2 separate regions of the Homo sapiens genome follow, and region 1 is linked to region 2. A link means that fine-mapping ties the variant in region 2 to the plasma level of a protein whose gene starts in the linked region. Region 2 holds a variant in brackets. A gene starts in the other region. All regions are shown on their forward strands.

The links. A credible set is the group of variants that fine-mapping cannot tell apart. PIP is the chance, under the fine-mapping model, that this variant and not a neighbour inherited with it causes the effect. Protein levels are from antibody-based Olink assays in UK Biobank. Linkage for the fine-mapping came from a reference panel and not from the study's own genotypes, which makes the PIPs less certain.
Region 1: BMPER starts here. The variant in region 2 is the best candidate, but not a certain one, in a credible set for the plasma level of the BMPER protein (UK Biobank, PIP 0.61).

The regions. Positions count from the first base shown.
Region 1 is chr7:33,905,351-33,908,220 of GRCh38, forward strand. BMPER (BMP binding endothelial regulator) reads left to right here and starts at 189. Exons shown (of 15, transcript NM_001365308.1): 1 at 189-396; 2 at 1,468-1,553. The coding sequence starts at 264.
Region 2 is chr10:93,078,241-93,081,151 of GRCh38, forward strand. No RefSeq gene overlaps it. Among named protein-coding and RNA genes, the nearest start is that of CYP26A1, 5.8 kb to the left of the region's middle. The variant G/T (reference allele first, on the strand shown) is at 1,727.

The DNA of each region.
Region 1 (2,870 bases), not on the chromosome of region 2:
TCCCTCAGGAAAAAAAAAAAAAAAGCCGCATCGGAGGAGCCTGGCCGCAGGACCCCTCCTCCCCGGGCGCCCCCACACCTTGGTCTCTCCCCCCGCCCTCCCTCACACCCCCCCGCCCCCCAGCTCTCGGGCGCCCGCCTCCCTCCTTCGCGGACGGTCTCCCGACACGCCGGCTGAGAGCCCTTTTCGACTGTGAGCTGCGGCAGCTGAGCAGAGGCGGCGGCGCGGGACCTGCAGTCGCCAGGGATTCCCTCCAGGTGACGATGCTCTGGTTCTCCGGCGTCGGGGCTCTGGCTGAGCGTTACTGCCGCCGCTCGCCTGGGATTACGTGCTGCGTCTTGCTGCTACTCAATTGCTCGGGGGTCCCCATGTCTCTGGCTTCCTCCTTCTTGACAGGTAGGGGAGGGGGCGGGAGGGACCGGCCCTCCGGGACGCCGGTTTGGTACCTGGGAAAGGTGGCGCTGGCTTGCCCCGGGGATGGGAGGGTGGGGAGCGCGCACCTTGGCGCTTGCCCTGCGCTGGTCGATGGGGATGAAGCGAAGCCCCGGGAGGGCTGGGAAGGCTGGTGAAGAGGTTGCGGGCTGAGAGGCTGTTGCCTTCAATGTAGTAATAATAGACATTCTTCTATTTGAATTTGAGAAATTATTTTATTTATTTTTAATGCTTTCCTCAACTTTTATTTTAATCTTTCCCTCTGTAGAACTCAGGAAAAAAATTTGTGCAGTTTTCCGCACATCTTCCTTTCTCATCTTTGGGGTTGCAATACATCCACTGTGCTAGGAGTGCTTTTTAAAGCACTGGCTCTCAAGACCTTGAATTTAAAGAAACTATCATTTAAAAAGGGCACTAATAGCCGGATATAATAATTATATGTTTTCAGGCAGGTGAAGACCTCAGCTGCTATTCTGAAGGACATACTTTACTGACACCTGGTGCAGAAAAGAAAATATGGAGTCAATTTCTAAGAGAAGGGAAAAGGGGATTGCGTTTCAAAAAGTGATTTAAACCTAAGACAATGCGAGACAGATTCATAGAAAGGCCTGTTTATTGACTCAGTTCTGAGTTTTGGTCAATTTAAAATCTGCCCCAATTTGAGGGTTTTTTTAAATTTTATTTTTTATTTTTTTCTTTGCGTATGGGGCTGTGTGCTTAGTTGAAATATCTTCATAAAGGAGGAGTGTTATTAAAAATCCAGTGAAATACTTGGAATTGTGCTTAGACCATCTGAGAACAGATAATTTATCCCTATATCATAGTCTTTTCTTTTTTGAACCTGTTTAAATAAAATTATTGAAAATGGAGTTGGGGGCAGAGGTTTTGCTTTGGTGAATTTAATAATTTAAACCACATTAAGAATTCTGAAGTTTGGGTAGAGGTTTCAAAAAGGATTAGTGTAAAAATTTTAAATGTTGAAATCATGCTGCTAAGCTAACTTTAAATGAAACATTTTTCCCCCCTGAATTTCAGGTTCTGTTGCAAAATGTGAAAATGAAGGTGAAGTCCTCCAGATTCCATTTATCACAGACAACCCTTGCATAATGTGTGTCTGCTTGGTAAGTGTGGAGATCAGGTAATATGAACTCAACTGCTCTCTCTGATAAGGTGAATCCATTAAATGTGATAATATAACCAGATCTTACAAATTGTCTTTATCATTACAAAATTGCACATAACTGTACATAGTTTGTGAGTTGAATCCAGTTAATTTCTGAGTTTTATGGACTTTGGCAATTTCCATTTCATCCAGCTGGAAATTCTTATCTTTGACATCATCCTTATAGACGTAAATTTCAGATAGGCTTTGTATGACGTCTCGGTGAAATGACAGTTTGTAATGTCTGTTTCCAGTAATGATTACTACAACCAAATTCTTGGGACAACAAAACTTTCTGCGTTGGTTCTGTCATTTAAGCTCAGTGGGAAAATGATGAGATAAGATTTAAGTATGAAGGTCAGGAATAAGGTATGCGACAAAGGGAAAGAGAGGTGACAGCCACAAAAAACAAACATAAGGACAAGATGTAATTCTGGATTTCTTTCTCGGGTTTCTTTGCCTGTTATACCCTAAACCCTCAAATACTGTCTTTATTTCTGATTTGGAAGCATGAGTCGGAAAGGACAATTCCATCCTTAATAGAGAATGACACTTGGCTGTCAGCTGCTTAGTTAACACTATCAGTGGTTAGAAGACTCAAAAAATAATTTGTTTCCATTTATTTTAGTTTAGTAGTTAATGATAAGTCTAATAAGTAACCACTTGGGGGAGATTAAGTAATGTGAATAAGAATTTCTGAGATGAAATATAGACCTACAAGGTAAACATTTTTGCTTAGGAGTGTTTTACATGCCAATCACTTTTGGCAAAATTTGGTTAGAAACTACACATTATAAAACCTTGTTGGAAATACATTAAGGCAGTCAAATGCAAAGCCCCAGAATGATAGAGGACTACTTGTTGCTAGATCAGCATGCTGTGTGGCGCTGGAGAAGGAATTCATTTCGGTTTAGGCAAAAGCCAAGCTATCTGAGTTTATACTACATAAATTTTTTCATGACAAGAGTTGAGGTCAATGTTTTGAAGTGATAAATGGGTGAAGGTAAATGGCTGTATCAAACAATTATCAGGTTCGGAAGACTAAGGAAATCAACAGAAACAAGTAAAAACGCACTGCGTTTGCTGACACAATAAATATTGCTGCCTAATAAAACAGAGCTGAGAGAGGGTGTATTATGATTGCATATTTATGGGTTGCTGTGTTCATTGATGATCTTTTAGTAAATAATTTGTTGAAAAGAAGCTTTCAGTTTAAATTTTGACTCAGTTGTAGATTTACAAATGCAGTGTGTGTGTATGTGTGTTTAATCTTCCT
Region 2 (2,911 bases):
CCTGGCATAGCCACAGTCTGAACTGAAGGCCAGACTCTCAATCCAGAAAGGTTAGCCCCAGTGACTTGCTTATGCAAGCACATTTTTGGTTTTGGAATGGCACAATCTGCTCACTGAACCTCTGATGACTTGTAGGTTTCAAACTTTACATTTTTCATTACAATTTTAGAATTTGGCAATACTGCAGAAACCAGGTGGTCTAAATAGGTGTTTGAAAAGTGTTCTGTCTACAGTTACATATTCTACCTGACTATAGTTTTTTAGGTAGAACTTGGGTTGTTCTTATTGTTGGACTGCTCTGAATTTTAAAGGATGTTTATGTAATAACTCATAATGCCGTTAAAAAATGAGACATTTCAGGCTATGTAGTTTCAGCCAAAGCTTTAGTGTACTATAGTGTGCAGAGATGACTCTTCTACCCCTAACATTTTTCCTGGACATTTCCAGCTAGGAGCATGCTAGACTGAGGGCATAATTATTTCAGATAATTTCTACAAAGGCATTTTTAAATTTTATTTTATTTATTTTTTGAGACAGAGTCTCACTGTGTCACCCAGGCTGGAGTGTAGTGGCACAATCTTGGCTCACTGCAACCTCCGCCTCCTGGGTTCAAGCGATTCACCTGCCTCAGCCTCCCGAGTAGCTGGGATTATATATGCACACCACCATGCCCGGCTAATTTTTATATTTTTGGTAGAGATAGGGGTTCCACCATGTTGGCCAGGGTGGTCTTGAACCCCTGACCTCAGGTGATCCACCCACCTTGGCCTCCCAGAGTGCTGGGATTACAGGCGTGAGCCACTGCACCCGGCACAAAGCCATTTTAAAACAGCTTTTTTTTTTTTTTTGAAACAGCCTTGCCCTGTAGCCCAGGCTGGAGTGTAGTGGTACAATCTCAGCTCACTGCAACCTCCACCTTCCGGGTTCAAGTGATTCTTGTGCCTCAGCCACTTGAGTAGCTGACACTACAGGCGCATGGCACCATGCCTGGCTAATTTTTGTATTTTGGGTAGAGATGGGGTTCTACCACATTGGCCAGGCTGGTCTCGAACTCCTGACCTCAAGTGATTCATCCGCCTTGGCCTCCCAAAGTGCTGGGATTACAGGCATGAGCCACTGTGCCCCATCTAAAAGAGTTTTAATACTTTTCATTCTTCTGGAGGACAGCTGGCCTTTAAAACACTATCTTCGCTGACTTAGTGGCTCTGTTTCTCTGCGAATGTAGTGCAGTCGGAAATCTGAGCCATCTTAACATATCATTCATTTTTTAATCTGGGGAGCTTCGAGGAAAGTGCTTCTGGTTTGCATTTCCCAGGGCTAGATTTAGCCCAATTATCCTGATCAGTTACAGAGTAGCAAAGAATTCATCTTGAAAATACGTTAAAAACACAATCTTTGATCATGTGCTTTGTGCAGAGGAAAGGCAGTCTGGAAGCATGTGAGCAAGGCTGCTGTCTTGGACAATGGGCCTGGGTCACATCTCTCTGGGTCAAGTATGTTTTATGGCACAGTCACCTCTGGGCTGGTGTCCACGTGATGGAGAAATGATGTAGATTTGGCCAAAACTGTGGAAGGAGGGGACATGACCCCTCTTGGACTCACTCTGGAAAATGACCCTTCGGGCTCCTAGCAGCATGGTGTAGCGATAGGGGTGCTGTGCTGTCCAGGGCTGCTGCGGGTGGGCGACCAAGCTGGTGCCCTCTGCTTCCCCTTGCGCAATGCCCTT[G/T]GCCCTTGCTGCCTCCCATGTTCTCTTCAATCAGGACTGTGTTGCCACCAACCACAGACCACTGTCAGGACTGAGATGTGAAAGCCTGAGGCTTCAGCATTCAGAGGGATTGGAGCCTTTACCTAGCAAGGTCCTTGGAGGCCCAGAGACAGACTGTAGTTTTCCTGGGGCCACACAGGGAGTGGCAGAACCAGGAAAGACCTCCAGATGCCATTTTTTTTCTTTCTTTTTTTAAACAGCTAATAACACTTGCCCGATTTCTAACTCGCTGTTGCCAGACATAATCCAGGGGTCTCAACTTCCTAGCTTCCTTTTATGTCCCCTGCTACCACTCCCGTGCCAGCACAGATCAATTCTCTTGCAGGTCCCCAGAGGTGGTTGGTGAAATGGGAGCGCTGAGAGGAGGTGGCTGCTCCCCGAGACTCCCTGTCTCCGGTTGGGGTTTCAGTGCTTTTTGCACCCTGTTACTCTCCAGAGATCCACAAGGGGGCGGGCTTCTCCCTTCTATGCCAGGCTCAGAGGCCAGTGGTTTTCCCCACCAGTGTCCACGAATTCCAGTGTACAAGACTCTGGCCCAGGGCTTGCTTTTACCCCGGACAGTGAGAAGCTACAGGCCACCCAGGGCTTAGCAAGTACTTAGCACCAGGTCTGGTCAAGGCTGCCTGGCCCCTCTGGAAGGGGTCATCCCAGGCTGGGCTGACCTGCGCGTCTTTCAGTTCCTGAAGCAGCCGCCAACCCTTGGTGGTCTATGGGGTCAGCGGCCCAGGTTTCCAGCATTGCCCCCACACTGCCCACGTGTGGCTTATGTTGCTTTCACTCTACCTGGAAAATCGCTGTCAGTTTTGAGGGAGCAGGGAGCACAGTTTCCAAAGAACGCGGGCAAACTAATCAGCCTTCGGATGACCGCAACCAGGTGCGGGAGCCACCGCACAAAAGCACCTAGGGAGGAACGAGGGACGTATAGGGAGGTTGCGGTGGCTCCTTTAGACAGTCAAAGGGCTGCTGTAGTAAACACAGGTTCAGACCCGTTCTGAGGGACAGAGCATGCTCTTAGGAGGGTAAAGTAGGAGAGAGATGCTGGCGCCATGTAAGGAAAACATTCTGAGACAACTCCAGCCCTTTGGTGATGAAACAGGCTACCTTGTGAGAGGGAGAGAGTGAGCTCTCTGTCAACAGAGGCAGCCA